Regions from separate parts of the Homo sapiens genome. Here regions 2 and 3 are each linked to region 1. The links come from fine-mapping of genetic effects on gene expression. A gene starts in region 1. Each other region holds a variant in brackets. All regions are shown on one strand. Distances are from middle to middle.

Region 1 (10,875 bases):
TTGTTGCATCGCTGGATAATATTTCATGACATCTTTCAGCTGCATATTTCTTATGAAGAATTTAACTGAAGTAAAACAGAATTTAGGTGGGCAATCTAGCTTTGCAAGTCTCTCTCTACCTCTCCATCTGTCCCTGTCTCTGTCTTCCTCTTTCTCTTTTTCAGATTATTTACAACTCTGGCTCACTAATAAATGTGATTGTGATTTAAAGAAACAAAATCACCTGCTTTATTCATCAGGGTATGTTAAATAATAAAATATCCTTACTGTTTTCAAACCTCATGAAGCCTGTATATTCTAATACCAACTTTCTAAAGACTCATTAATAATTAATGAAATCATTAAGAATGGTTCATGTTGACTGACACCCTCCTGGCAGCCACAGTCTCCTCTTACGCTTTGTCAAAATGTCACTGGCTCCACAGGTTTGATTTTCATGGTGGGAGTGGGGGTGTGGGTGGAGGGGGAGGGAGTTTGATTTCACAACAGCTATCAGCTAGAACAGAAAGCTATGAAAATGTTCTTCCAAGTTTCTCTACTTAGGAGACTGTGCTGGGAGAAGTTTTCTGAACAACCTTTCATTCTTCCAATGCTAGGTTCAAGAAATCCTGCTAATATTATGTTTTCATTGAAATGGTATTGTAGGGCTGAAGTCAATAAGCAAAGATGTAGTGTTGAAAGTCACCCCCTTTGTTTTCCTCTTGTTTTCACACATTTTCCTCTTTCTTGGCATTGCCTAGATTTATTCTCCTCTTCTCCCTTTTAGAAACAGAATTTGGCATAAATAAATGATAACTGAGAAAATGGCATACACGGACAAGTAAATGCAAGATTTCTCCAGCCTCCCACGGTAGGTCATGGTCATTTGTTGTAGCAAGTGGTTACCCACAAGAATGATGGAGGTTCCGGCGGCTGCTGTCTAATTTGTGTTTTAATAAAGAAACCCACATTCTTTCCCTAATTACTCAAAATGGAACAGGAACCCCCAAAAGTCTTTCCCACCATTAATGTCCTGAAACTGTTAAATCAAAATGGACTGCTTTGCCGAGTATGGCCCACAACATGGAATTTGGTACATTTCATACCCCAGTGAATTTAAATTGTATGGAGCTGATATTTAATACAAATGCAAGTACCAGTGGAATCTGCATATTTAATATTCATTCTCTAACTCTCAGAATTAAGCAGTTGATCTATGGGACACAAAGGGAGAATCCTTCTCTCAAAGAGGATATTTTATGACCAGGCAGTTTAAAAGACACTGACATAAACAACTGTTTGAGGCTTGCTCTCTTTCTTTCTCTCTCTCTCATCTTCAAAAGGCAAAAAGTACATGTAAGGACATGCTGTTTTAGACAAAGCATTTTAGAAAATCACTTGAAATGTTTTCCCTTTCCTTCAGGGACAACTAAACCTTTGATAGATACTCAAGAGAGTTCTTATAATTTAGTTTATTTCTCTTATTTTCTTAAGGGGGGTGGAAAAAGAGATAGTATGAAGGCACAAAGCTGAAGCCTACTTTCACTCGAAAGTAAAAATCATACTGCTTAAATAATAAAAGTGTTATTTATGGTTTTTACACCATGACTGAACACACCAGATTTTCTAGGACAGTGTCAATTTCAAATGTATAGCTAAGTTTAGTTTCATTATTGTGCCTTTGTGTGATTTCACCTAGACAAAGGAATGAAATAGAAAACAAATATTTTGCTACATCCCTTGCCCTAGTTTTGAATTCCTAATATACGGTCACTGTCTCCTACTCATGCTGATATTTGGAAAGCCATTATGGAAAGGACTTCATTTTTTGAGGTCATGCCTCACAAGTAAAATGTGCATCCCACATCCTTTCATTTCCTTCAAATGCTTGAGGGAGGAGGAAGGTACTGGGTGAAGACCTGCCTCATTTTCCAGAGAGAACACAGAGAGCTTCGAGTGACTCTGGAGCTGCCGCATTTCACAGGCATTTCACAGTGGTTAGTCCTGAATTTTTAGCTCTTGGACTCCAGAGTGGGCCCCCTCCACACTCTGCTCTGCTGGAAGAGTAGTTGCAGTGGAATGAGGGTCGCATGAGGCTTAGGGCTGTGCACCCTGGATGCTTTGAATTGGGTTTTAGTAGTCAGCCCACTTATTGAGTGCTAGGTGCTATCTGTGGAGTGATAAAAATATGCATGATACCATCTCTGTCTTTACAGGGCTTGAAATGTATTTAGGGAAGCCAGGCATGTATGCATGAAATAGAAAGTCACCATACAAGGCAGTGGGGCACCTGCCATTTGCTGCAGAGGACGCAGCTGAAGATAAGGACTACAGCCATTCAAGGCCCCAGGGGAGGCCAGGGCAGGACTGGGACCAGAGCCTCACCAAAGACATGGAGATCCTAGGATAAGAAGGCTGAAGGGTTAGTTTCTGGATCATCTGAAATTTGATATTTTAAAAGCTTTCTTTAAAAGACGCTTTTATAATTCTCTCTTAAAAAATTCAGCCCATTTTGTCCTTTGCCATTTTTGAATTGGGTTATAGGTCTTGTACTTATTGATTTATAAAAGCTCTTTCATTTTAGAAACATTAATAATAAATATTTTACCTAGTTAAGAAAATTTAGCTGCCAAGTGATGTCTTTTCCATATGGTGACAAATACATTAAGGAGAGGGGAAGGTCAAAATTTGTGCTTTATGATTTCTTCTTAATTTTTAAAAATTTTTAATTTTATGGGAACATAGTGGGTGTATATATTTATGGGGTACACGAGATATTTTGATACAGGCATGCAATGTGTAATAATCACATTAGGGTAAATGGGGTATCTGGCACCTCAAGCATTTAGCATTTCCTTTTGTTACAAACAATCCAATTGTACTCTTTCAGTTATTTTAAAATGTACAATATGTTTTGCTGACTGTAATAACCCTGTTGTGCTGTCAAATACCAGATCCTATTCATTCTATCTAACTCTATTTTTGTACCTAGTAACCATTCCACCCCCGCCCCTTCCTAGCCTCTGGTAACCATCATTCTATTCTCTCTGTCCATGAGTTCAATTGTTTTAATTTTTAGCTCTCACAAATGAATGAAAACATGTGAAGTTTGTCTTTCCATGCCTGTTTTATTTCATTTAACAGAATGTCCTCCAGTTCCATCCATGGTGTTGTAAATGACAGGATCTCATTCCTTTTTATGGCTGAATAGTACTCCACTACGCATATGTACCACATTTTCTTCATCTAATTTATCTGTTGATGGACACTTACATTGCTTCCAGATCTTGTCTATTGTGAACAGAGCTGCAATAAACATGGCAGTGCAGGAATCTCTTCAAGATACTGATTTCTTTTTTGGGGGTATATACCTAGCAGTGGGATTGCTGGATCAGATGGTAGCTCTATATTTAGTTTTCTGACAAACCCCAATACTGTTCTCCATAGTGGCTGCATTAATTCACATTCTCACCAGCAATGTAGGAGGGTTCATTCTCTTTTCTTCACATCCTTGCCAGCATTTGTTATTGCCTGTCTTTTGGATAAAAGCCATTTTAACTAGGGTGAGACTTTATGATTTCTTGGTGAACAAGGAAAAGTGTTTAAGCTGTCCCCACCCTTTGATGGGTATGTTCTCTCTTCACGTGCGTAGGTTGTTGATGAAAGTCTAAGCGATTAATTTAAGCCATGTCAGAATAAACCAAAGTGAGGGTCCCAGCAGAATCATTCACTCTAGAATGCTCGGCTTTCTGGACCTCCCAGTGAGAACAGTGAGAAACTCCAGAGTTTTATGGATTTTAAGAATAGCTCTTCTGAGACTCTTTGGACAGGGTGCAAAGGAAAATTGTCTCCTCAGGTTGGGGGATGAGGGGGACTGTGAGATAAAGTACTGATAGATAAACTCCAGGTATGCACCTACTATGCTCCCCAAGCAATCTGCCATGTCCTTCACATGTCCTCCAGGGTGGCCCTGTGAAAAGCATTACTCCATCCCTTCAGCCCTCAACCTTGCTCGGCTTTCTAGAGTCTGTCTCATGCCGGCAGACACCCCATAGTTATTATTCTCTCTGCCCTCAGCAACATTTACCAGTTAGGGGGAAAATAAAGCCAGAAAATTGTTGCTATGGGCTCTGTTTTGTGGAAGTTAAAATGCTAGAGCAAGAATCTGATTGCTTGATAGCTCCATCTCTCTCTCTCTCTCCCTCCTACCCTCCTACCCCCCCACAGTTTCTCCTTCTTTTCCTCTCCCCTCCACCTCCTTCCCCCACCCCGCTCCCCCACATTTTCCTACTCCTCTCCCCTCTCTCCACTGGCCTCCCGGTCCTGCCCCCACATTGGGCTGGAGGAGAGCCTTACAGGTTGTCAATGAAACATGGAATTATTTCCTTTGATGGCTTAGATAATAGTAGGAGCCAAAGCAATGAGTGAGGTCGGCTGAAACCAATGCAGTCCTGCCCGGGACTGGAGAGCCAATCGCAAGAGCAGAGGGCGGGGCGTCGGAGCCAGCAGATAATTGCTAAGTGCATCGCTAGCACAGTTGGTCCGAGCTGCCGAAAGGTCTGGTCGCAGAGACAGGAACGTGTAATCCTCAGCGTGCTCCAGCCCACAGCTTCGCTCTACTGCTCGGCAGGGCAGCTGGCCTCTGGGCACCGGCGGCCCCTCTGCCTCGCGGAAAAGGTACCTCTGCCTGCGTCCCGGGGGTGCAGCGCCTGCGTCTCCATTGCCAGTGGCTTTGCAGTTTAGCCTAGGTGGAGGGATTGCAGAAAGAAAAGTTTCTGGGAGGGAATGTGATAAAGGTGGGAAATCACTGTCTTTTGTTGGGAGGAAAACAAGCGGACAATTTGGGAAACTTCTGCGCTGGCAAGAAATGGGCTTGTTTACTACTCCTAATTAGCTGCGCTCAGGTCTGTCTAAATAGGTCTGGTCTCAGGCTAGGGTGTCTGCAGGGCTGGGGTGGAGATTCGGGTGTGCTGGGTGAAAGAAGTTGGATCCCAGGGTGTGCTGTTTCCTGGTGCACCCATCATGGATAGGCTGGTTCCGAGAGAAACGTGATTGGTTGTTTGTGTTTTCCGCTATAGGGTCTGTCCCCTTCGTATTACCTTGATCTGCCTTCCCCAAACTATTGTGACCTTCAACTGGAGTCCTTCCTCAAACTTCTGCCTCCTTCCTGCCTGTCTCAGTTCATTTTATTTGGTGGAAGGAGACATTCCCCGGGGTGGGTGGGTGAGGATGGTCTATTCTGTTTGACCTGGTGGGCACCTACGTGACAACTTGGTGACACGCCAGCAAAACAGTTCTCAGAGGAGAGGAAATCACATAATTAATTAGCTCCCGAAAACTCTGGAAGACTTTCCAGGCTTGGGGTATCCTGAAAAAAAAAAAAAAAGAAAAAGCCAAAAAACGGGATAGAGAGTTCGGTTTGGTACCATGTGAAGCTTACACCCTTGTCCCCAGAAGGGGTGCCTGGCCCGGAGCATCCCCGCAGCTCTGGGAGGTGGAGGCTGGTGGAGGGGGTGGCTCCGTGTAGGTGCGCAGGTTGTTTTGGTGCACAGGTGCATTTGTGGCAGAGGTGGTGCTGAAGTCACCATCCACACTGCTTCTGCTAACTGCTCTTGAAGTAAAACAGCTCACCCCGGCAGGCAGCTGGTTCAGCCCAGAAGCACCCTTGAGCATTCTAAATCGCGAGACCTCAGGGGCCTCTCTTGCTCTGAGACCCTTGGGAAACTCCTTTCTCCCCCTGCCTCCTCCGCCTTTGGCTTCTGCTAAAGGGAGATATTAGGTAGGTGAGTCACTAGGAAGCAGGGACCCATGGGGAAGCAGGCGATGTGCTTGGTCTCGAACTTTCTTCCTCTTCTGCGAAGGCAGCTTCTGCTTGTGTGCCCACCGCACTTCACCAGTTGCGCTGCCTACCTGCGGGATACTCTGAAGCTGATAGTCTGGGGGTGATCTTCCAAGTCCTAGGGGCATTGAAGAGTTTAGATGATTTTCATCCCTCTGATTTCCGTTAAACCCGCAGCTGGGGAGTTCGATTCCCAGTCCTGACAAGACTGCATGTTCTGGGAGGGATTCTCCAGTGACACCTCTTCCTCAGGGCACCCTTCCACGGAGATGCAGATGACAGTCTTGATTCTCCAGCTCCACAAATCCCTTCCACTTTTTAATTCTTATTTTCTTTAACCACCACAACAGATTCTCCTCCACCTCCTGTAGGCAGCTATTTTGGGTGGGAACTGTGATTATTGAAACTCTATTCACAATGGTTAAAAAAATGCCTGCCCACTTTTTTTTTGGGGGGGGTGTCAAAATACCATCAGCGTTCTCTTCTGTACTTCCTATCTGACAGTAAACAAAACAATTTTGCAGCCCTGCCAATTATAATCTTTTTGTGTTTGGGGGGCCTGGAGCGGAAGCTGAACTTTTCCCAGCCGGTGGGCATGGTTAGTCATGGACGTCGTCCTCTGTGGCCTCTCCAGGGCACGTGACCCCCAGGGAGCCCAGGAGGGGCAGCCCCCAGCACGTGGGGGATCTTGCATGAGAGCACCTTGGTTTTCATGAAGGCAGTAAGGAAACCAGAAAATGCTTTTGAGTTTGAGGATTGCAAAACTGGGGGTTCCCTTTAATTGATGCCAATCTGTTGGATTTCTATCGTGATAGGAAACATTAAAAGTAAGGCATTTGAAACAGCTCCTGAAGGGTGAGTCATGCACAGAGGGAAGAGGCAGTGTGGGGGGAGGGGGCGGAGGGGGCCTTGGAAAGTACAAGTGGGACACGCTGGAGCGCTCGCTTTCCTTCCCTCTGCCTCCTCCTCAATCCTCTTTCTTGTATTTCCCCATTCGGAACAGAGATCATTAAAATAACAACTTTAGACCAAAAAAGGATCCTAGGAGCTGAAAAATAATTGACAAAGTGCAAAACACCCTCATTACAGCTTCACCTTGGATGGGGTGAGGTGTGAAACCCAGGACCCAGCGCCTCTGCTGCGATCCAGTTTGGAGAATCTAATTGCTGGTGTTAGGCTAATTAACTCCTTGTGAAGCTGCGTGCCTGTTTGTGTATGCAAGGACCGATGAATGCCTAGGAAATTAAATGTGTTACTTGTCATTTCATCAAACATGATGGCTTTGGCCAGGACCCTGGATAAGCACTATCCACAGACCCAGCGTTTTCTCCTCTTCCCAATTGGCCAAACTGGATCTCTCTCTCTTTTAACCACTATGGTGGGAAGGGGTTGTGTCTTTCTGCTTTTCCAAGCCCTGCGTGAGTTACCTGGCAAATAAAAGTCCTCTCCTTACCCCTCTGTCCCTCCATCCCTGTCATCCTTCTGTTATCCCTTTTCATCATAAACATATCAGTAAGTAATCTTTTGCCAACCTACTTTGATCTTGTCATTTTGTGCTGATTTTTCTGTTAAAGAAAATTGTCCCCTGAAATAAGACTGAAAACATATTAAAATTTTTATCAGAGAAGAGCCTTTTTGCCTTCTGCTTTAAAATTTAATTTTGTGCTTTTGGGGAAATCTAATAAGCACGCCTATTGTGTTCGCTGTTTTGGTAAACGCTTTTACAATGTCTTGTTTTTTTTTTCTGTGGATGTGTGAATTCCCTTCCTGTCCTAGGGGAAGGTGTGTCTGGAGATTTGAAACACTCTGGAACACCTCAGAAAGTTGAAGAGGTTGGAGCACGCTATTTCCATGTATTCAAGGTGGGGTGAAGGCTGTTTTGAAACCTAGACCCTGAAATGTATTCACCACACTCTGCTATTTTCCCTCTTCATCTTTCATTTAGGAAAATTTCATAGCCCAAATTATGACTAAATCATTCATCCTACTCACTCTCCTTCCCATGCTCGTGCCCCTTCCTCCCTTCCTCCATTCACCCTACATGTAGGGTTACCTCTCTTTCCTGGTTACTTTTTGTTTCTTCCTTCCTGTCATTTCAGGGGGCCCCAGGGTGGAGATCTAATTGTAGATGTTTTGTGCACCTCACTCCTGAAACAGTTAACCAGGGGACATCAGGAATTGTGGAATGTGATAGGAGCCTACCCTAGGGGAGCAATGAGGTAATCCTGTCCCCAAGTTCAGTTCTATGCAGACCTCACCAGAGCACCTGGAGTGGTGCAGCTGACCTGCATGAGGCAGACAGGGCAGATGCTTCGAAGCACAGTCCTGTCTGACACCTGGAGAGTCCCACCAGCCGCAAGCCCTCACTGTGCCACTGTCCTGAGGCCTGCGCCTGCTGCAGCCCCATGCGCAGAGCTGACCTTGGAAACATTAGCATGCAGGGAAATTTGCCTGCTGTGCTCTCAGTTTCTTTGCTCTTTGTTCTCACCCCTAAATCTGTTAATAGTTGGAAAGGATCAAATCTACTCATTCATACTAAGGTGTGAACAGTTAATAGTGTTGCTACTTACAGAGGTATTTACATTCTTAAAGGAAATCAAAGATGTGTGTATGTTCTCACTTATAAGTGGGAGCTAAGCATTGAGTACACATGGACATGAAGAGGGGAACAATAGGGGCCTACCTGAGGGTGGAGGGTGGGACGAGGGTAAGAATCAAAAACCTGCCTATCAGGTACTATGCTTACTACCTGGGTGATGAAATAATCTATCTGTACACCAAACCCCTGCCACGTGTAATTTATCCATTATAACAAACCTGCACATGTACCCCCGGACGTAAAATTAAAAAGTTGGAAAGAAAACAAAAGATGTGCACAGTCAAATTCCAGGCACCTGCTAGTGGGATTGGGCAGAGGCAGACTGAGTTTGGATGGGGAGCAGAGTGGGAAACGGCGGCCTTCGCTTTTTAGCTCTGGCTGGTCCTGCTCTGACCCATGCTGAAAACATGCTGCAGTGTCCCAGGGCTTTGTGATCTTACTATCTGGGCTCTGGCACTTGAGCTAGATCCCTCAGATTTGAACTTGGGCATGTGCTTATGTGCCTTTTCTGACTTTTAGTCCCCTTAGATATAGAGCCAGAGGTCAGGACTACGTTCTCACAGGCTCCTTTCCGCTCCAACCTTCTCTCTTGATTTTGCCACAGAGCCCTACATCCCACTGCAGATGCTACAGCTCTGGAAGCTCTCGGAGCCTGCAGAGCATCCTCTCGTGCGGGCCATGGTGATCAGCGATGCTTTCAGAGCTGGAATCCATGAGGGCAGCTCGGAAGATGTTGTAACAGAAGAAGCACAGGATGAGGGCTGATGTAATAACTGATTTTGGTTTAGGAGGGGATGTTATATGGAGGATGGCGACCAGCTGTTCTCCATCTCCAGCAAGGATTGAACTAGAGAAAATAGACAGAAATTGCAGCAGATGGACTTAGATTAGGTATGAGGAAGAATTTTCCATCAGCAAGAGATGTTAAAAAGGGAAGGTTGTTGAGCCTCTGTGATGATCTTTAGGAAACGGATAAGCAGGGGCTTTTAGCTGAGGCAGGAGCCACAGATCTGTGAGGAGGGAAAGGCAAGGGCCATGGAGTGCAGGCATCTGTGCCCTCTGCTGATGAGAACCCTTACCTATTTCCCTGAGCCTAGAGACCCTTCCCCTGCCCTGCACCAGCTGCCACCTGGACTGGCAGATTCTGTCTATTGCATGGGAATCATTCATCAAGTCTAATCTTTCACTTCCAGATGTGGCAGATGATGCCCAGAGAGGTAACAGGCCTTGGCGTTGTCACACAGCGAGCTGATAGCAGAGGGAGGACCAGAATCCAGGTCCTCCATGTCCCAAGTCAGTGTTATTTGCTTTGTAGTTCATTTTCTTCTTGTTTCCAAATTGAATAGACCATTTGCTTTCTCTAGGCTCCTAATTTCTCTGTAATCAAATGGCAAAGACAGGAACACCTGTGGTTAAGCAATATTTATTGAGTGCCTGTTACTAACACCATGCACTCCACTCCAGCTTCCCTGTTTATGCCGATGACTCTTTAGTTCTGGCTGAGTGGCTGGGAGGGGCTGCTGACCCATCCCTGGGGGGGCTCCTGAGTGTGGCTGTGAGGCCAGGGTGGCGGGAATGTGTTCTAGAAACCAGAGCTGAGAGGAGGGGATGGGTAGACCAGAAGAGGATGAGAAGAGAGACATGGGAGCAATGAGATACTTAATCTGAATCTTATGAAGGGAAGAAAGACTTTAGATATCTCTGCAAACTTCTCCCTGGATAAATGAAATAAGATGGGCCCATAGCATGGGATCACTCTGGGTAAGACACATCACCTGTTACCTTACGGAACGGGATGAAACATACCATGTGAGGGCGTTCAGGGAGGGTGGAGTGGTGGCCCAGTGGAGAGTGCACACCGCCACACACGTGGTGGCCTAGCTCCGGACCCAAAGGCAGGCTGTCAGTGAAGTTGGGAAGTCTCACAGTTTTGAGAATGAGGCCGTGACCAGCTGTGGAGGGTTTTGCTTTGTGTTGGTTTGAGCCAAGTAGGAAGCAAGATAAATTGGTGAACTGAGCACCACAAAATAAAACCATTCTGTGTGTAGCCCTGAGAAGAAAGAAGAAAGCACCCCAGTTAGTGATGAGCTAGGCATCAAGAGGACAGCTCAGGGTCGGCAGTGAGTGTGGGGAGGCGCGACCCTTCCATGCCCCTGGCTGGCCAGGGTGTCCCTGTGCTAACAAAGGCATCCTGGGCCTTTGTGCCCAGCACGGAGGTAGGCACTAGGGGATCTACCAGAAGGAAGAGGGGTTTTTTCTCCTGCAGGAACTGGCCCAGCGAGACCATCAGCCCCTCAGGCAGCAGGGCAGGGTGCCCTTCCAGGGATTGGCTGAGACAAGGCGTGGAGAAGCCTCAGGGGCAGAGGGCCCAGGGAACGCCAGGGGCTGGTGGGCCAGGCAGGGAGCCCAGGGTGTGAGACAGGCTCAAGCTTGGGAAGGTGCAGATGCGGGAAGAGCG
Region 2 (10,875 bases), 100 kb after region 1:
TGTTGATTCTTTGAGATCTTTTATAAAAACAATCATGTCATTTGTGAAGAAGGATAGTTTTATTTCTTTCTTCCCAAAAGGTATACCTTTTATTTCCTTTTCTTTCCTTATTGCATTAGCTAGGACTTTCAGTACGATGCTGAAAAGCAGTGGTGAGAGGAGACATTCTTGTCTTTTTCTGATCTTAGCAAGAAAGATTTGAATTCCTCACTGTTATGTATGATGTTAGCTGAAGGTTTCTTGTAGATGTTCTTTATAATATTGAGAAAATGTTTCTCTATTCCTATTTTACTGAAAGTTCATAACATGAATGGGTGTTGGATTTTGTCAAATGTTTTTTCTGCATCTTTTAATAGATCATGCGATTTTTTTTTCTCTTTAGCCCGTTGATGCAACGGATTACATTAATTGATTTTTAAATGTTGAACCAGTCTAGCATACTTCAAATCTCACTTGGTTGTGGTGTATCCTTTATTTTGTACATTGTTGGATTTAATTTGCTAATATTTTGTTGGAAAATTTTGCATCTATGTTCATAGGAGATATTGGTCTGTAGTTTTCTTTTTCTTATAATACTGTTTTCTGATTTTGGTACTAGAGTAATGCTGGCCTCATAGAAGGAGTTAAAAAGCAGCTTATGGAATTATTGAAATTGTTATTATTATTTTTTTAAGACAGAGTTTCGCTCTTGTTGCCCAGGCTGGAGTTCAATGGTGCGATCTCAGCCCACTGCCACCTCTGCCTCCTGGATTCAAGTGATTCTCCTTCCTCAGCCTCCTGAGTAGCTGGGATTACAGGTGTGCACCACCTCACCCAGTTAATTTTTTGTATTTTTTAGTAGAGACAGGGTTTCAGCATGTTGGCCACGCTTGACTCGAACTCCTGACCTCAGATGATCTGCCTGCCTCAGCCTCCCAGAGTGCTGGGATTACAGGCGTGAGCCACCGCACCCCACCGAATATATATATGTATATATATATATATATATATTTTTTTTTTTAAAGAAAGTATCATCTGAAAGACACCATAGAGAATTGGTATAATTTTTCCTAAAATATTTGGTAGAAGTCATTAGTGAACCCATTTACGTCTGGTGCTTTCTGTTTTGGAAGGCCATTATTAATTCAATTTCTCTAATATATATAGGCCTATTAACATTATCTATTTCTTCTTGTGTGACTTTTGTCAGATCGTGTCTTTTAAGAAATTGGTCCCATTTCATCTAGGTTATTAAATTTTTGGACATAGAATTTTTCATGGCATTTTTAAATTATTGCCTTAATGTTCATGAGACCTGTAGTAATGTTCCCTTTTTAATTTCTGATATTAGTAATTTGTGTCATCTCTTTTTTGTTCTTAGCTTTGCTTGAGGCTTATTGATTTTATTCATGTTTTCGAAGAATGAGCATTTGGTTGTGATAATTTTCTCTATAATTTTCTGTTTCTAATTTTATTTATTTTCATCTGCTTGCTTTGAATTTAATTTTTTTCTTCTCTTTCTAGTTTTCTGAGTTAAAACCTTATGTGATTGATTTTAATTTTTTCCTCTTTTCTGATGTATGCATTCAATGCCATGAATTTTGCTTTAAACACTGCTTTACTGCATCTCACAAATTTTAAGTTGTGTTTTTATTCTCATTTGGTTCAAAATATCTTAAAGTGTTTCTTGAGTTTTTTTTGACCCATGTGTTATTCAGAAGTGTATTGTTTAATCTCCAAGTATTTTGGGATTTTTAAACTATCTTTCTGTTATTGATTTCCAGGTTAATTCCACTGTGGTTTGAGAACTGATAGTGATTTCTATTATTTCTATTATGATTTTTATTATTTTAAATTTGTTAAGGGGTGTTTTAAAGCCAGAATGTGGCTTATTTTGATGCATGTCCTAAATAAGTTTGAGAATGTGTATTCTGCTGTTGTTGGATGAGATAGTCTATAGATATCCATTATATTCCATTGATTAATGGTGTTGTGTTTATGTTCTTTCTTATTAGTTTCTGCTTTTTGGCTTTGTCCATTTTGGATAGAGATGTGGTGAAGTGCCCAAGCATAGTAAGAGCTTCGTTTATTTCTCCTTGAAGTTCTATCAGTTTTTACCTCATGTGTTTTGACGCCTTGTTATTAGGTCTATACACTTTAAGGATTGTTATGTCTTCTTGGAGAATTAGCCCTTTATCATTACATAATACCTCTTTTTATCCTTGATAACTTTTCTTGGGCGTGTGGTCCATCGTTGACTCAAATGCTGCCATGCAGCAAATGACTGTAGTTAGATTAATATCTAATATATTTGTTACTGTTCTCTATCTGTTGCCCTTGCTTTTTGTTTCTGTTTTTATTTTGCACTGGTTTCTATTGAGCATTTTATATGATTCCATTTTCTCTCCTTTATTAACACATTAGTTATTCTTATTTTTTACTCTTTTTATTGCCTGGACTACAGTTCATAATATTCACTTACAACTAATCCAAGTCTACTTTCAAATAGCACTATACCCCTTCATGGTTGGTGTATCTCATAATATCAAAATGGTCCTAATCCCTTTCTCCTTTACCTTGTTTTATTGCTTTCATTCATTTCACTTATACATACTTATACAATTGAATACATTGTTGCTATTATTATTTTGAACAAATTGTTATCTGTTAGATCAATTAGAAAAAAAATTCTTTTATTTTACCCTCAACCATGCTCTTCCTGACTTTATGCAGATCTGAGTTTCTGACCTTTTTTATTTTCCTTTACATTTTAAAAATTGTTTTAAATTTTTAAAATATCTGCCTTTATTTTGTGCATTCAAATGGAAAACCCTTCAGAGAGCCCTCAGAGCCCTCAGGATAAAACTCCAATGTAAAGAGGCACAAATCTTTAAATTTGGAATAAAGAAAAAACCTTAGTCTTTCTTTTTCTGTCTTTGCTTTTGTCTGTCTCTGTCTACACATATCAGAACGGAAAGGGAAAGAGTGAGAGAGACGGACAGACAGGAACAGAAACAGTTTTAAACTATCTAAACATCATTGATATCTAAATATAGTTTTGGATATCTATCTGTCTCTCTTTCTCTCTATCTGTCTCCCTCTCTCTCTATCTGTCTCCATCCATCCATCTATCTATCCATCCATCCATCCATCCACCCATCTATCCTTCTCTCTGTCTCTCTCTCTCTCTATTCATCCATCCATCCAGCCAGCCAGCCAGCCATCTATCCTTCTCTCTGTCTCTCTCTCTCTCTATTAATCCATCCATCCATCCATCCATCCAGCCAGCCAGCCAGCCAACCAGCCAGCCAGCCAGCCATCTATCCTTCTATCTATTTATCAAGATGGAAATGGACACACAGACAGACACAGCAAGAGAGAAGCTAGGCAGGATGCTAAAGGTAAGGCCAGCTGGGAATATGTCCCAATTGAGGGGACTGGCCTGAAAAAAGCCCCTTCCAATGGCTAGAAACACAGTTCAAAAACTTGGAGTAGAGAAGAGAGGTGGAGGAAAGTCTGTATGCTGCTAAAACTGCCTTCAGGTTTAACCATCGTTTTATTTACTGATAGAACCCTGTGTCGATCTAGGTCGAAGCCTTAGGAAGTAATGTTGAGAAATAGTAGCAATAGCAATAAAGGCAGAGGGAAATTAATCTCAGCCGAGTGCTGCTCTGGGAAAGCAGGTAAGAATTATCCACTTTGTCAATGAAGTTTTCTTCTGTCAGAGCCAACAGAAGTTGAAAGTGATCAGGACTACCAGGAGCATCAGCAGGGACCTCTGTGGCTCTAAAGTGGGGTGGATTTATGCAGCATATGGAAAGTCAAGGCAGCTCTTCACAGTGGAATCAGTCAGGGAGTAAGAGGTATTTATTGGTTTCTAGTGTTCTTTTCTGCTTTTCAGCAACGTCTTTTCTCATAAAACCTACAAGCGGGGCTTGAAAAATAAGATGTCCTGCCTGCTGTGGGTTGTCATACATTAAAGAGCCTGGCATTGGGACCTTGGAACAGAGCGATGCCAGTCAGCAAGAACACATTCTACTGTGGAGCTTGATAAATGTTTGCCAGGGGAGGAGGAAGAGAACATCAGAAAGTTCTTTCCGAGATGTGTGCAGATCATTAACTTGCAGATCAGGACCCTGAGCATATCTGCTCTGGTTTGTGTGTGGATTTCCAGTTCTTTGAAGACTTTCCTAGATCACAAGGAGATGCAGGAAAAAGCCAGTGAGGAGCCTGACCGCTTAGCCTGAAGTAGAGGTTCCCCCTGCACCCAGTTCTTTGGCGACATACTGTGCCCTCTTGCTTCCCCTGCTAGGAAGCTGGGCTGTGCCTGGTGGAGCAGTGAAGACCCTGGAGAAGAGTGAAGGGCATGGACACCTGATACTGCCTCCCTAGGACCTTGCCTTACCTGCCAGCCCCTCAGTGCCCTGGCTTAATTGCCTGGCTCACTCCTTAGAGGGTTCTGACTTGGAATTCAAGGTCTTGCCCCATATCCAAAGGCTGCCTGTCCTAGTGCATGTTCTAATGTTCAACACAGCTACCTCAAAATGGGGGATGCTGCAGGTGAGGAGACTGTGACCTGTCGACAGATCCCCTGCCTGATAAGCTTACTGGTGGCAACATTTCCATTTACTGAGGACCGAGTGCTGTACCAATCTTTCTGTGCATCCTGTCATTTCTTTCTTCCGATGACCTGTCAAGTGGTAGATATCTCAATTTTGCATGCTGTTCCTTAGAGGAAATTGTAGCTCATGGAAGTCCTGTAATGTGCACAGCTACAATATCTGGGCCCTGTTATTTTGCAAATTCTCCAAATACCACCGTCCTTAGTCTTGTCACTCACTCCCCCTCCCCTTCACTGTCTGAGGTTAAAGGACAGGTGACAATGCAGTTGAGTTCAATTGTGATCTCTTTAATTCAGTAAGGATGTATTGGGCTCTTAGAATGTGCCAAGCACTGAGCCTGGGGCCCAGCACGCAGGATGGGCAGTAATGTCGGCACTGTCTGGGTAATGGCATGGAGCTCCTTGAGGCCAGAGATTAATGTGTGAGGCACAAGTGTCATATCACTCAAGTGGCCCTAAGTGCACCGGCAGAGGCACACTGCTCAGACAGGTGCTGGTGCTTTTTTTGGTGTTAGTGGCTAGTGGAGTAGGATGTGGTGTGGTGGACAGGCCCGGATTCACAGAGGCACTGGGAGGTGGGATCTGCAGAGTGAATGAGGGTTCAGTGGTTAGACAAGGGGAAAAGGACACTCCAGGTGGATGGCACAAAAGCTCAGAGCTCTGAGTGCATGGAAATGGTGTGCAGTGTAGCTTTGCTGGAGCACAGAGTGAGGGGAGTGAGTCTGGAAAGCTAACCAGGGGCGATTCCCTGCCTGTGGCCCCTGGAGGTGAAGATCAGGCGAACTGGCTAAGGAGGGGCCAGTTAGCCAGTTATGGGGCTGGAAGGCCTTGTGCTGCATGGATCCTGCCCTGGGAAGGAGATGAGATCTCCGAGCACAGCAGGTGGCTTTCTGTTCTGGGACTTCTTGCAGTTTCCCTGACACTCAGAAGAAAGAGAGAAAACAAGGTGACCTCTGACTGAAAGGGGAAAGAATTCCAGACTAGATCTGATGAAGAAGCAAAAGGGAATACTGTGAAAAATGTTTCAGACTTGCAATTCCAGGCACCTTCACCTCTCCAGTCTCTGCAGCAGCTGTGCGGGGCGGAGCCGGGGAGGGAAAGAGATATCATTCTAAGTAGTGCATTTAAGGGAGAACTGTAGGTCTGCAGTTTTGAAAGTTTTTCTTTCTTTCTTTCTTTTCTTTAAATACCACAGAGACAGTGATAAAGAGCTGGGTGAGATTCAAGGGTTCTGGTTAGCAGACAGCCACTTGGCGAGTTGCTGACTTCAGCACTTGCTCTGTTCCTTCCTCAAGTGCTTTTCTC[C/T]TCCTCTGCTAAATACACAAAAAGAAGCACCCTGACATGAAATATCAATGTTTTTTTGTTTTCATTTTTCAGTACTGATCTGAGTAAATCATGCCAGGGTCATTTATTGGGAAGGAAAATGTGGCATGGCAGGCGATATGCCTTGAGGTGAGTGTCATGTTTAAGCAGAGCAGACAACGGTGGGGCCGGTTTCCTCTCCCTGGGGAGCCTCTTGGAGCCTGCTGTTAGGTGCATGGGCGCTGTGGATGCACACTGGGTATCTGTTGATATACAGGCTTTCAAGGCCGGTTAAATATGGAGCGGAAACGTCCCCTTTCTTTGTAGCTGCGTCAGCCCCTGAGAGTCAGCCAGAGGGGGAGAGCTGGGTTGTTCTGAGGAGGGGCTTCACAGACCAGAGTTGCTATTCTCTATCTCTTCACACACCAGAGTTGCTATTGAAGACTCTGAGTGAGAAGAAAGTGGGAAAGAAGAACAAAGAAGAAAGTGTGGAAAATTAAGAAGCTGTGATGGTATATTTTAAGCACTTCTTTTGCTTTTCAGGTTCATTTTGTAACAGGAAGGGACCAAAACTGGTCTAGGCAGTGTCTTGGCTAAATGCTATGATGCTTGTGGTGGTAGTGAATGGAATATAAAACATCCCTTTGGATGCTCAAGAATGTCATCGGTTTGCAATTTGCAGAACGGAAAATGTTGATTATAAAGTATGGAGAAATTTTTATATGCAACATTAATGCAACGGATAGTATAAAATAAATCTGGGGATTGAAAGTTTATATCCTGAGTTCCTGAGTCTCAGACCTTTAAATCAATACTCCACTCCACTGATGAGAGCAGTTTCCCAACTGATGCATCAGTACAGCCAGTCAAAACATAAAAGGAGCCCCCAGGGAGGAAGCAGGTGTCATACTAAATTCTCCTCTCAGCCTAGGGACAGCCTAGGCTCTGAATTGAATTTCTGTAACTGTAAATTCTGGACTTAACTATGTTGGCCAGAAATTGCACTAAAAAACAGTCTCATGGTCTGGTGATCATGGTATTCATAAGGATCCAGTACAGCTTTTAATTCGTGTCCTTGGCTGCCTGATGGACAGACCTCGTGAGGTTTGTATTTGTGTCTTTAGGAGTCAGGTGTGCCAGGGCCTCTTTGCATGGGTGTTTCACGTGAGTGTGCAAACCATTGGCCACAACTGTTCTTGGAGGTTTGCCCCCAAATCAGCTGCAATGATCGGATGCTTGGCTATAAACATGGACTCAAGGTTAGGGCTTTCAAGGTAAGGGCTAAGTCCAGAGTAGATGTGTGATTAGACTAGGGTCTGGGGAGTTATACCATAATGCCAGGATCATAGAATAGCATTGCTGATGAGACATTGGTAAGTGGAGAAATAAAGGTGCAGAGAGGACTTCTGAGGCTTTGTCTTAGGTTCCTAAGCTAAGACAGAGTGTTTCTGCATCTGTCACCCTCCCTCTTCTGAGCTTCCAGGGCCATCTAGTCCTCCTCTGCTGTCAGGAAAATGAGATTCCATTTGCCACTTTTGCCCAATGCCCACCCTCCCCCGCCACCTGTAAGCCCTTGTCTTCACATGAACGCAATCATTGCCACACAAAAGCACAACCCCTTGACGATGACAGCTGGCCGTTTGTGTCCCCAGCTGAGACAAAGACCCAGAGAGGAGAAAACTGATCCACAGGGGAGGGACATGCCTGACCTGGGAATACCTGTGTCCACTGGGGAAAGGAGAGTTAGAAAGGCAGCGGGACTGTGTGTGTCTCACAGCATCAATGAGCTAAAACCCAGACCACGCTGCCCTGCGGTTTCCTGCACCAGGCCACGTGCTCTGCTGTTGGGCTTCATTTCTTCTGTAGTTGTCTTTCCCCCATCCCTAAGACAGGGAGGCAACACCAAGCCCAAGTAAACTCCCCCGGAAGAAGGCTGATAGAGAAGCAGGACTGTGGGCTATTCTGTAGAGAGTGCCTGGAGTCATCTGGCTGGAGAAAGACTTTGTGAAATGCAATGTAGTGTGTTTCCTTTCTGGGTGCCCTAGGTTTCAATGAGTAGTCAGAACCAAGACACATAGTGCTATATGGTGTGTTGGGTAACTCCATGTCTGAGTCAGGGGAGATTCTGATGCCTCCAAATGCCCATGGAGTCTCTGTAGCTTATGGTGCCAACAAGCTATTTCTCATCCATGTGCATGAAGTCAGTTCTTCCTAAAAGCATCTTACCCTGTAAGAAAGTGAGGCTTGTTATCCGAGTTCTGCACCACATTATGCATCAACACTAATGCATCAGTGCATTTGATTAAATGATATTTATGTTTGAGTTCAAAAATTTCCAAAAAAAACATTAAAAAAATTGCCTTTTGATGTCTCCTAAGGCAGCTGGCAAAGAACTAATTGCAAGGGAAATTCTCTTTGGTGAAAGTGGACATTCTGCTTAACTGAATGAGAATACCAGCGGGTGGGGAGAAATAAACATGCTTTGTTTTCCACAGAAGGGAGCTTGCATATGTCCTTGAGGAGTGTACAGATCTGGGGCAGAAAATACACAAATATGTGCTTCTACTAAGAGATCCCAAGGAGGGGCGAGTCCGTCACACTTTTCCTGAAGAAGGTGACAAGAGGAATTCAGATGGATTGTAATTACAGATGTCACACCTCAGGGGACCCCTCAACCTTGAGAAACTTCAGGGCTTAGACAAACGACATAGATACAAATCAGTGGCTCTGGTCCTCACAGACCAGCAGGTTTGAAAACATTGGGGACATTACTTGTCATGAGCAATTCATTTTACTTGGAAATGTTCGCAAGCGTTGGACTTTTCGGCATGACTTGGAGATGAGATTAAACATCACGAGAGCTTTAGAAACACCCCCAAATGGAAAATTTGTAACGCTTGAAAGGAAGCAGCAAATTCGCAAAAGGATTTCAAGGCTGTTGTTAAATCATGCTATTAGGAAAGAAAGGTCAGCCCTTGCCCGATTGGAAAATCGATGGAGCGTGGCTCTGGAACTTGTCTTCCTCCTTGTGTGGACAGCGAAAGATGGCATTCCCCCTCCAGGGGCACACGGCCTATTCTGTGCCTTCTCTCAACTGTCCTTCAGTCTTCTTACCTGGCAATGAAAGGCAAAGTAGGGTTTTGTTTGTTTGTTTGTTTTTTGTTTCTGTATTTTTAAATTCACAGACTTATTTTTGTGCTCAGTTTTAGGTTTACAAAAAATTGAGCGAAAGTACCCATGTACCCCCCTCTCACCACGGTTTCTCTCTGTTATTAATATCTTGCATTAGTATGGCACATTTGCTGCAATTAATGAGCCCACATGGACACATCATTATCACCCAAAGCCCACTGTTGCGCTCAGGGCTCACTCTTTGTGTTATATCTTTGATGAGTGTTGACAAGTACATAATATGTATCCACCATCACAGTATCATACAGAGCAGTTTCCCCAGCTGAAAAATCCTGTGTGCTCTGCCTATTCACCATCCCCACACCCCTCAGGCAACCACTGATCTTTTTGCCATGTCCATAGTTTTCCATTATTTAGAACATTATATAGCTAGTATCATATAGGATGCAGCCTCTTCAGATTGACTTCTAGTACTTAGTAATATGCATTTAAGTTTTCTTTATGTCTTTTCATGGCCTGATTGCTTAGTTATTTTCTTTTCCTCCCCTCTCTTCCCCTCCAGTCCCCTACCCTTCCCCTCCTCCCCTCCCCACCTCCTCCCCTCCCCTCCCCTCTCCTCCTCTCCCCTCCCCTCCCCTCTCCTCATCTCCCCTCCCCTCCCCTCCCCTTTCCTTCCTTCCTTCCTTCACTTCCTCCCTCCCTTCCTTTCATTCCTTTCCTTCCTTTCCTCCCTCCCCTCCCCTCTCCTCCCCTTCCCTCCCTCCCTCCCTCTGTCCCTTCCTTCCTTCCTTCCTTCCTTCCTTCCTTCCTTCCTTCCTTCCTTCCTTCCTTCCTGAATACTATTCCATTGTATGGATGTGCCATGGTTTACCTACTAATCTATTGAAGGATATCTTGGTTGCTAATGGCAAGATTTTTAATCTTATCATTATATTAGTATTAGTGAACTTGAGAGGGGAAAGTGGCCAGTTCAGGGAATATATAACTATTTATAGTCTCCTTTTTAAAAATAAAACAAGACTTTTGTCAGTTTATAAAAGAAATAAGGTTGAACCATATGAAATTGCCAATATTTAATCCTTTTTTCACATACAAAAATAGTAGTTTCATATGGTTCAACACAGCATATGCTCACAGTATATAGCTCACATACAGAAATGTAGAATATTGAAAGTGAAACATAGGATTTTTTTGTAGGTAAGGAAATACAAAATTAATGTAAAAGTATTTTCTGCCTCAAAGTCCAGTCAGACTAGTTTCAACCCCATAGCTAGTTTTAGTCTTTTTAATCCCAGAAAGAGGTGAACTCATTGCATGCTGTGGGTGGATAGCAACACTGGTGGATTTTGAAGCAACCCACCCGGACATGGAGTTATGGCCCCTCTGCTGTGCAGCGGCCCTCCTGATGAAGTTAGCTGGTGCTCATAGCTATCCAATTTATTGACAAGCCAGTGGACACCAGGGCACAGGGCTGGCCTCCTATAGCTTCCTTGTCTGTGGGCTATAAGGGAGAGCTTCGATTTCTCAGGCTAAGACAAAACATGGCAGAATATGCTGCTCAGTGTAGTGAAAAGTGTGCTGGTCTTAGAGTCCGTAGTTGGTCAATAGCTATTATTTAAAAAAATCTATGTTCTGAGTTCTGGAGATCTAGCAGTGAGCAATTCGGACTATTCCCTGCCCTCAACAAGCTTATATTGCAGAATGCTGGATGTGGGTGTGGGGAACTACATGAGCAGAAGATGGCCCAACTCAGCCATGAGCCAGGGCGAAGGACCTGTGTGACCTTGGCTGGTTGCTCAGCCTCTCTGAGCCTTAGGGTTTTTGGAGGATCAGAGGAGATG
Region 3 (10,875 bases), 210 kb after region 1:
TTGCAAAACACATGAAATCTGGAGACAAGCTCAGTATGTTTGGGGGCACAGGTTGTGTTTCAGCCTTTGACAAGCAGCCAGTCAATTGAAACTCCTGATTCTTGCTCCCTTAAATGTTGCATATTCACCTTGTAACCTACTCCCCATCAAATCTCTTAAAATAGACACCTCAAAAAAACAGTCACTGGAAAATTTTTACCTGTTTTCCATGAATTAATAACCAGTCCATTTGTTCTCTCTGCTGAAGCAGAATATTACTGTTAAATTAAATTTTGGAGGTAATGATGGAAGAGGAGAAGGTGTGTGTTTGCTTATCACATCAATTAGCAAATGGGAGAGTTATTCTTTCTGCAAAAAAAAAAAAAAAAAAAAAAAAAAAAAAAAAAATTGCCACATGGCAAAACCAGTTCTTTGTGAATTTAAATACAGCTTCAAGACAACCAAGCATCCAATTGTTTTCCTGAATTCAAACACCCTCAGATCTGGGAAATAGAACTCGAGTGTAATTTGTTAGCCATCATCAATACATTCCAAAGGAAAAGGAAAAAGCGAAGTACAGCCTTTACTTAATGGCTTAGTCTTGGCTGTTCATGGGACTAGCTCAGCCCTCCCTGTTGCAGAAACCAGGTTGCTGGATAGGCAAGAAGGGAACGAATAGGGTGTGGTGCACCGAAAGCTATGGCTCAGGTTGGGCCTGCCTTGCGCCAGCTCCCCCTTCACACCCAGCTTATACCCCCTTCTGCAGCTTGCCCTCCCATCCATTCCCCTCTGTCACTGCTTTGAGCAGAAAGGATCTTGGAAAGTGGCAGCACCAGACAGATCAGAGGGCCTAGGAAGCTAAACTGGCTCCTGGCTTGGGTTGGTGTCAACCCAGCTGTTGGCAGGGAGCAGAGAAAGCAAGGCCTCCTACTAGAGGGAGCAAGTAGTCAGACATGAGGCAGTTTGGTCAATAGGAGAAAAGACATGCAAATGTATGCAATGTGTGTACACGAGCGCCTTCAGAATGAAGACCCAAATGCAGTAGAAATTGGCCATTTTTATGGTTACTTCAACAAAGTAAGGGCAGCCTTGTAGAAATATGATTGCACAAAAAGGGAACGATCTAATGCTGTTGGACAGAGTGGGGACACCTAGCAAAGCCTGTCTGTCTAGATTCTTCTTGGCCTCTCTGAGCAGCACTCCTTCCTTCTGGGTGTGGGGCAGGACCCTCTCTGGAAAGGGGGTCTCATGTCCTACTCTCCAGCAAGGTCAAACAGATAATTTCTTTATGGTCAGTTTTTACACAGAAAGGTGAGGGGAGTGAGGGGAAGTTAGATCAATAGTTTTTAGGTTTTATGGCTGGCTTTGGGGAAAAGGCGGTTCTGGTTTCTAAGATCTGCCTTGGAGAAGCAGGTTTCCAGGCTATCCTTGGGGGAGAATGGGACTGGGAGACAGGAGGGTAGGAGAATGTCAGAGAAAAACTTCACTTCTGAGGCTGCTGCTCAGGTCTTCATTTTGAGATATTGTTTTGAGTCCCAACAGCAGAAGTAGGCATTGTGGGGGTGTCCCAGGTTAAGGGTTGAAGGCCTGATAGGAGGATGGCACCAGCATCGGAGGCTCTGGGCCCAGGGAGCATGCAAATGAACCAGCAGTGTGCCGGTGTTGGGAAAGCCTGGCAGATGGTAGCAAGGCCTGCTGCAGTCCTGGGTTCTAGGAAAGGATAGGCTGAGAAGACCATGGCAGGACACCACCATTTAATACAAGCATGCTGGGCTGGAGACCACGCGTAGAAAACAAAACAGGAACCTGAATTCTAGCCTTAGAGTATAAGGTGGAGGCTTGTTCTCAAGTTACTGCAAGTACAGGAGAAAGACCAGGAGGCACTGGAAAAGAAAACCCACACTATGGCCTCCTGAATTATCAAGTACAGCTCCCTGAATGGAGTCCGGATGGCCATCCTCCCTTACTGCCTGCAGCCACACCCAGCAGCAGCTTCTCCAGGGCTTCACCTTCCACGTGGTGGCTGCCTTGTGCTCCTCTAGGAACCGCTCTGCCTAATTAACCAAGCTGGCTTGAAATTGCTTCTATAATAAAAACAAAAGGAAAAAAAAAGGAACACAGAAAATCCAGTCAACTGAATCAAGATGTAAGAGAAACAATTTTGCTCAGGTATGCTGCCCCCACCCCCGTGAATAACAGGCTCTTGAACTGGGGTGATTTCTGTGTTGGAATAATTGAACCACAACTCATTGCTTCTGCCAGCTACTTCGTCTGATGAGGGTGAGCAGTTGGGATCTGTGAATCACTACCTTTCCACCCCCTCCAGCTGCCCTTTGATCAAGCATCTTCTGGGTCTCCTGCAGAATGAGTTGCAACTTGAGTCGCCTTCTCCAGATGGGTGCATGTTTACTAGAATTTCTGAAATGCTTGGCAGAGCCGCTGGAATAACACTCATTCATTTACATATTGTCTGTGGCTGCTTTTATGCTGCAATGGCAGAAGTGAGTTGTTATAACAGGGATGATCCAGGTCACAAAGCCTAAAATATTTGCTATGTGGTTCTTTACATACAAAGTTTGACTCTTGATCTAGAGACTGGATGATCTTGAGGAACATGCATCAAGGAGGCAAAGGGTTTTTTATACAGAAACTCACAACGGGTGCTAGGGTGAGTGTCTGTATAAAATGGAAGCAGTCTTCCCAGGCTGTGCACCAGTCAGGAGCTGGGGAGGTGCCTGGGATAGAGATTGATGAAAAGGATGTGACTGAGAGCAGGCTCATACCTGTAATTCCAACACTCTGGGAGGCTGAGGCTGGAGGATTGCTTGAGCCCAGGAATTTGATACCAGCCTGGGCAATGTAGTGAGACCCTTTCCCTACAAAAAAATAAAAATTAGCCAGGCATGATGGCACATGCCTATAGTCCAAGCTCCTTGGGAGGCTGAGGTGGGAGGATTGATTTAGCCTGGGAGGTTGATGCTGCAGTGAGCTGAGGTTGCACCACTGCACTCCAGCCTGGGTGACAGAGTGAAACCCTGTCTTAGGGAAAACAAGAAAAAAGACCCCAGTCATTGGGTTTAGGGCACACTTTAATCCAATATGATCTCATTTTAGCTTAACTAGTTACAGTTGCAAAAAACCTATTTCCAAAAACATTGACATTCTGAGCTTCTAGGGGGACATAAATTTGAGGGGACACTAACCCGGTATATGAGCAAACTCCAGTTAACTGCTGGCAGCTGGCAAAGATCATAGGCCCTGATTCTGTGCCTGCCCCCAACCTCTTTTTTTTTATGATAAATCCATATCAGCAAGATCTCATTCAAAATCCTGAAGAAAACATCATTTAACTCTTCTCTTTAGAAACTTACTTTTGGAGAAAATATGAATGAGAGGAAATCTGATGTATGGAAGAAAATCCTTAAACTATAGTTATTCTCCATTTTCCACCATTCATCAAAGTGATTTTTAAGATTATGCATAATTGGAATGGTTAGGTTCTATCCAGCATTAATAAGAACATTCATCTGTGTCTGTAGCAGAGACTTTGCTTATCAGACACCCATTTGCTTTTTATCTGCCCCAGACTTGCAATTGATTGTGTGTTAAGACCTGGCTACAAGATGGAAGAGAGCCATTCAACTGCGTTAGACTTTGCACGAACAAGAAATAAGCCTTTATTGTGATACTTTGCGGTTGTATGGTATTACAGGAGAGTCTAATCTATCCTGGTGGCTACATTATCCCTTAAAGTTATTGTTTCAGTTATAAGCTTTTATGAACACATCTATCATTCACAGTAAAAATGGATATGAGTGCAATCTTTCATATAATTCCCAGACATCATTAGTTTGACAGGTAATGACATCAAATTTAGCAATAACCTTTCTTTCATTTTTGACCCTTCAGAGTTTGAAGTGGCCCTAGGGTTATGTGTGTCTTCAGTAACAAGGCTGGATGGATAGAGAACCATTCTGAGGTGTGCTCTGCAGGGACCACAGTTATTACTGCCTCTGTTCATGACTGTACCTCTGGGCACATAGTAGGTATTTAATTAATACTTGTTCGATGTGTAAAAATTGGAAGCATACATTAGAATAATAATAGGCAGTTAAGTGTCTATAGTTTTATTTTCAAATTTAGTTACCTTGGTTATTTAAATTTTAGTCAAGTATGATGGTAAAAAACAGTGGTTTTCCAATTTAACAGGAATGTATCATCCCTGTCCACTTGCTTGATCTTACAAAACTCCTTTCTTTGTAAAATAGGTGATATACCAAATACCAGAGGCCACAAACAGAGGCTGTGAAGTCAGACCCAGTTTTAAATTCTGCTTATATCCATGGGAACATTCACAGGTGGTTTTAACTGTTCAGCCCTCAATTTGTTAAAGGTAAAGTGAC[G/A]GAAACACATTACAGAATTACTATAGTAAGGCAGAAGATATAAGTAAAATACTTACTATAGTGTCTGCCACACAATTCAGTGTGGAATGGATATATTATTGTATGTAAATACATACAAGTGTAAGCATACACACAACTGATCCTCATTGTTTGAGGATTCTGTATTTATGAATCCACTGTGATTTATTTGTAACTCCAAATTAATTCTCCTGGCACTTTTGGGGTTATTCCCAGACATGTGTGGAATTGTGAAAAATGTGAGTCATGCCAAGTGCACATTCCCAGCTGAGGTTGAACACGGTGACATTCTGCCTTCTTGTTTCAGCTCTCATTCTGTAAACAAGTCTCTCTCTCTTTTTTTTTTTTTTTGCAGTCTATTTAGTGTCACGTGTTTTGCACATTTTGTGTCTTTTGTTGGTGACTTTGCCATTTAAAATGGCCCCCAAGAGCAGTGCTGAAGTGCTATCTAATATTCCTAAGTACAATAAGGCTGTGATGAACCTTACTGAGAAAATAAGCTTTGCTCAGACATGAGTTACAGTGCCATTGGTGGTGAGTTTAAAGTTAATGAATCAAACATTTATATTAAATCAGACACATTTAAGCAGAAACACACATACATCAAGGTTGTATATTGATTGATCAAAACCTTGTAACCACAAGTTCCTAGGAACCTAACCCTGAATTTCTCCTAGGAGCAAAGTGATTTACTGGTATTTGCTGGTCTACTGAATAGAACATTTCAAAATCCAAGGCTCTCACTAAGTGGATTGGTAGCAACAAAGACAGATATTTATACACTTTAAATCAAGTATTTCTTATTTGCAGGAACAGTAAACAATGTAAGAAAAGCAACGGATAAGCAATGATCTCATTCATTGCATGTATTGTAAGTGTGTTTATTGTATATTCCTCTTCTAAAATCTTATTGGTTCTCTTCTTTTTTTCCTTATTTCCTGTTGAAAATTAGAGAGACAGAGCTTCAGAACTTTTACATAAATTTCCATGCCAGACACAGAATTGCTTATTTAAGTTCTCTGTTGAATAAGTAAAGATCAGGGTAGTCTATATCTGCTTGAAAGTTACATAAATTCAAATTTTGAATAATACATGCACTCTAGGTTCAATCAGCACCTCATATTTGCATATAAGATTTCATACACCATAGCAGTTATTTCATCTGAATCAGGTTATTTGGTTTGTGTGGCATAATCTGTCTAGATGCTTGCTTTAATAGATGCAAACAATAGTTTGTCAAACAAGCAGATCTTAATAGTGGTGCATCTTCTTTTAAATTAGGAAAGCTGGCATGTTCTGAGGCATCATCTCTAGATCAGTGCATTTGTTCCAGTTGATGTTTTGGCTTTTCTAAGCTCATAAATGTAAGTAATAGATTCACAGATTTGCAGAGCTGGAAGGGGCTTAGTGATCGTTATTTTAGCCATCTCAGATACCTTGTGAGAAAACTGAAGCCCAGAGGGGTGAAACCATTTACCCAAGGTGATACAAGTGGCTGACAGCAAAGACACTTCTCTTGCAGTAATGCTTCCCTGGTGTCACTGGTGGGAGAAACCATGCCTGTTAGTCCATGCCTATCCTACAGCGAGTAGGATTTAAATCCATTAGCAATGTGAGGTAAGCTGAATTCTTTTGGCCATAATTTTTCTGCGCTGGGTCATAGCAAGCTTGGGGCAATGATTAGATTAAGACTGCTGTGTTTTTTGTTTTATAGTTGATGACTAATGAAACAAGAGATCAGTGATTGGATAAAACTAAAGATTTTAACAAGGAGCCTACTGCCTAGGTGATTTTCACAATCCTTTTCAATACCGTAAACTCGATTTTCTCTTTTAAGTGATCACATAGTGGTATAAGACAGTTGATGATCTCAGCATCTTTTATGATGTTGTTATACCTTTGTTTCAGAAAATATTCTTTGACATACTTTTATAAAGGAAAATAGTAGAACAATAAAATAATCAATTTCCTGTGCATACTCTGAAACTGTCAACAGGAGACATGGTCAGGACTTGAAATCCATACGCAAAACACATTACTATTCAAAAAAAAACTACAAGCAGAAGATTTTCTGGCAACAACTCCTGAATCATCTATTAAAGATAAGAACCCTAAAAGTGTCTAGTCTATGAAATTGAGAAGACACTCATAAAGTAAGCATCACACCTGAAATAATGGGTAGTAAATGTCCCAAACTATATTCCCATTCTTTGAAATATCTATACATTTTAAATATCAGCCTCAAAATTCTCACTTAATGCTCAGATTGGTTTCTTTAAGAATCAGATGCAATAGGTGCAAATTACTGCATGGCATTTGAGTGCGATTAACATAACATTTTAAAATATTTTCTAAATTCATGTAAATTACTTCTGTTCTCTGACCCTGAAGGTTAGTGAGAAGACCGGCCCCAGCCATTCACTGGAGTATCCTCCCTCTCCCTCTTTAGTGCCACTCACAGGGCTCAGAGAAGTCTCCACCTGTGGACTCTGGCTACTTGATGATCTCACCCAGGATGCTGTTGTGTTCTCAGCGTCCACAAGCTGGAGGTCCAGCCCTGGGGCTCCCTCAGAAGTGTATTTTAATCATCTGTTTTCTTCATGGGCCAAGTCTCCTCCGTTTCAACCTAGACCATGGAAAAGAAGACCAAGGACCCATGGGAGGCATTCCTAGGGAGGTCCCACCACCTTGGACACACTGTTTTTAAGCTGCTCCGGTCTCTATCAACAGTTACAACTCCCTTTTTTCCTAGTCCCCAAGAAGCCAATTACTTTCTTGACACCAGGCATACTCCTCTTTGACATTCAGATCCCTTTGCCTCTCAGACAACTCAACACAAATCCATTTGCTCATCCTCTCCCAGAGGTGGGGAAAACCAGACTTCAGAGCCTAGCTACGTTTTTGGAATGGAATGCAAAATTTCCTCTCATTTTAATGAAGTGAGCCTATAAGAAAATAATTTCTAATTTCTCGATAGGTTACTCTGCTATGTAAATTGTCACATGACACAGACACCTAGCATGTTCACTTACTGAAAACAGAAATATGAAATTTAATATATTTTCCTCACTTTACCAGCCTTCAGAGAAGTTGTTTCTCTTGTGTAGGATTTCCTGCTAAGTGATTTTCTTCTATTGTTTGTTGAGCACTCAGTAGTTTATGGCTCTAATCATAAATCCACCTAAGGTTTGTAAGTGTATTTTGGCCATCTTGAGGTACCATGAATTGCAAATGGGAGATTAAAGGGGCCCAACAAAGTTTATTTTATTTTATTTTGTTTTTATTTTTATTTTTACTTTTGAGATGGAGTCTTGCCCTGTCACCCAGGCTGGAGTGCAGTGGTGCCATCTCAGTTCTCTGCAACCTCTGCTTCCTGGGTTCAAGCAATTCTCCTGCCTCAGCCTCCCGAGCAGCTGGGATTACAGGTGCATGCCAATACACTCAGCTAATTTTTGTATTTTTAGTAGAGATGGGATTTCACCATGTTGGTCAGGCTGGTCTTGAACTCCTGACCTTGTGATCCACCTGTCTGGGCCTCTCAAAGTGCTGGGATTACAGGCATGAGCCACCGCCCCCCGGCCTATTTTATTTTATTAAATTTGTTGTGGTGGTGGTGTTGTTGCTCAGTTGCATTGAAGGACTAAGCAATGAAGTTTTTGCAACTCTTTTTGGAGGCAGCAGTTTGTCTCGGTCGTGGTACTGGCTGAAGAGATGATCTGGGCATTCTGAGTGCAATCCTCAAGACTTAGAAATCAGTAAGTCTTTGGAAGCTAAGGGTCCTCAGTCATCTGAAGGAAGGATTGCTGCTCTCTTGCCACTTGTTGAGATCACTTAACTGAGAAGCAGGAGATGGGTTGAAGGCCTACCCGTGAATTCTTGCTGTGATTATTTCCTGATTAGTGGAAACTGCTAATCATTAGCATCTTCATTTTGCATTTCACTCTGCAGAGCAGATGAAATCTTAATGCCTGGCCTTTCATTTTCAGTTAGCAAAACTAATATATCAAGAATGCTGATGAGAAGGTGAGGGAAGGATTCACTGTAGTATATGTGGTAAATGAACATTTAGTCCATCCTTTTTGATACAAAGGGAGGTTTTATTTGTAGTCAAAGTAAGTCAGAGAGAAAGAGGTCCATACAATTGATGAAACCTGATGATTTAATATTCAAAAATTGTGCTTTAAAAAAAATGTTTCATCCAGAGTGTAGGGTATAGAATGACTTCTACCTAGAAGTTCATGAATCTTGAATCACCAACATGTTTTCTGTTTCCAATAAGATTCTATTTAACTCTTTCTCATTGGCTGGTATGCTTTACCCAATATCTCTCCCTCCCCCATCAGGTATTAATAATCCTTAATTCTACCAACCTCCCAGAACCGCCCTCCCCGGGACAGTCAGCATGGCTTCACATCAGGGATCAGCTCCCTTAAGCTCCCTCTCTTCTGTGTTTCAAAGCTATTTTTCAGCAGCTTTGGGAAACAGCTGGCCATCAGCCCAAATTCTGTCACCTTCTATGTGTCTCAAGTGTCATTAAGTTGTACTTCAGTGCCCCGTCTTCTGGCTAAGTAATTCCACATCCTTTATCCTGCATCATATACTTTTCTTCCTCATATCATCTCTCTGCCTCTTATATATACTTTCTATTATTCTGTAAAACATCGTAGATAGCTTTGAAGGAATCTCTGACTGCTGGAGTGTCAGCAAACTTACGACCAGCTACAGGAACATGCCACCACCATTGCACTAACTTTTCTGACTCACTCTTACCAACCACTTTTCCCGCCTCATGTTCTTCACAGCCCAGCAATGTGGGATTGAGGAAAGAACACAGGGCAGCAGTTAGGGGCTCTGGGTTCTAGTCTTAGTTTTCTCTGTGGTCAAGATGCCTGCAAAGTAACTTTTGTCAAACAGACACTTTTAATCCTCACAACAAGGTTGTGAAATTGAACCACTGGCCCCATTTTATTTTAGGAAACATTCTCACTGTAGGTAAAATAACCCACCAGAGTTGTGATTTGAAACTGGTTTTGGTTTTATTTCAAAATGATATTTCATGATATTATTTTCTTTGTACCTGTTGCTCTTATGATTTTTAAAAATTGTTATTACTTTTTTTTAATTTGTAGAGACAGGGACTCACTCTGTTGCCCAAGCTGGAATGCAGTGGCACAACCACGGCTCACTGCAGCTTCCTGGGGTCAAAGGAATCTCTCACCTCAGACTCCCGAGTAGCAGGGACTACAGACGTGCATCACTATGCCAGGCTAATTTTCAATTTTTTTTCGTTGAGACAGGGGTCTCACTCTGTTACCCAGGTTGGAGTACAGTGGAGTGATCATAGCTTACTCAAGCTTTGAATTCCTGGGCTCAAGATTTCCTCCTACCTCAGCCTCCCAATTAGCTGGGGGTGCAGTCTCACTATGTTGTCCAGGCTGGTCTTGAACTCCTGGTTTCAAGCAATCTTCCCACCTCAGCCTCCCAAAGTGCTGGGATTACAGGTGTGAGCCATCGTGCCTCGCCTGTGATTTTTTTTTTAAGTACATAGACTTCTGTAGAATTAATACATCTTAATAAAATAGTCCTGTAAAATTAGTTCAAAATATGTCTATTTCAGACTTTAAGCTCCTTGAGGTCATGGATGGCTCTCTATACCTAAGGCAGGGCACAGTGCCAGAACATAGTTGAATGAATGAAACATGACTATATGAATATTTGGTATGGCTGAGGTGCAAGTGAAGCCCATCCCTACGCTGTTGCTCCAGTCTGAGGGTTCCCAGTCCTGTCTGCCCATTGGAGGTACCTGCAAAGCTTTAACATCTATCGTGGCTGGGCCCCACCCCAAGCCATTCTGAGCTCAGTGGCCTAAGTGGGTCTGGAGTCTTTGAGTGTCTAAACATCCCCAAGGTGATTCTGACAGGAACCTAATCCAGTGCTTTCCTAATTTAATTTGCATATGAGTCACTCAAGCCTCTTGCAAAATGCAGATTCTTATCCTGTGGTCGAGGTTGGGGCCTGAGATGGGCTTCTTTAATCAGCTGCCTAGTGCTTTGAATGGTCTTGGTGGGTGGTGCACACTTGGAGCAGCAGGTTTTAAAGCAGCTACATCCTCACTGGCTATTAATGATACACTTGTCCTAAAAAAAATCCCTCAAAATAAATCATTCATATTTTGTCTCATGTGCTCCCTTCCATCTGTGTCTGCATGGCAATAATGAAGTATGCAATTTTTGACCAAGCCATAGTTAAATTAATAATTGTGGGTGACACAGCAGAATAATTCAGGCTCTAAGTAGGCTTCTGCTCCCCTAGGGACTGAATTTGCTTAAGGATTTTCCAACTTTTGTCTGCAAGTCTTATGTACCCTAAAACTGACTTCCTCCTTTGCAGTGCTCCTTTGTTCATCAGCCTCATTGCTCAATTGGAGAAGCAGTGGTGTAGGGGTGTGGTCTTCAAGCCCTCAGGGACTAGGGTA

Direction of the effects. Alleles are on the strand shown, and positions count from the first base shown. SD is a standard deviation of normalised expression in the study named. Not every link is listed here.
With allele C in place of T in region 2, the expression in thyroid of the gene that starts at base 4,513 in region 1 is higher (moderate effect, 0.59 SD a copy in GTEx).

Evidence for each region.
Region 2: its variant is fine-mapped to the expression of ZMAT4 in thyroid (GTEx, PIP 0.90).
Region 3: its variant is fine-mapped to the expression of ZMAT4 in whole blood (TOPMed, PIP 0.99).

What each region holds. Positions count from the first base shown.
Region 1 is chr8:40,891,464-40,902,338 of GRCh38, reverse strand. It overlaps ZMAT4 (zinc finger matrin-type 4), which reads left to right and starts at 4,513. Exons shown (of 7, transcript NM_024645.3): 1 at 4,513-4,656.
Region 2 is chr8:40,791,467-40,802,341 of GRCh38, reverse strand. The region is part of intron 2 of ZMAT4 (zinc finger matrin-type 4); the gene reads left to right. Among named protein-coding and RNA genes, the nearest start is that of ZMAT4, 100 kb to the left of the region's middle. The variant C/T (reference allele first, on the strand shown) is at 5,906.
Region 3 is chr8:40,685,281-40,696,155 of GRCh38, reverse strand. All of the region lies in intron 4 of ZMAT4 (zinc finger matrin-type 4), which reads left to right. Among named protein-coding and RNA genes, the nearest start is that of ZMAT4, 210 kb to the left of the region's middle. The variant G/A (reference allele first, on the strand shown) is at 4,383.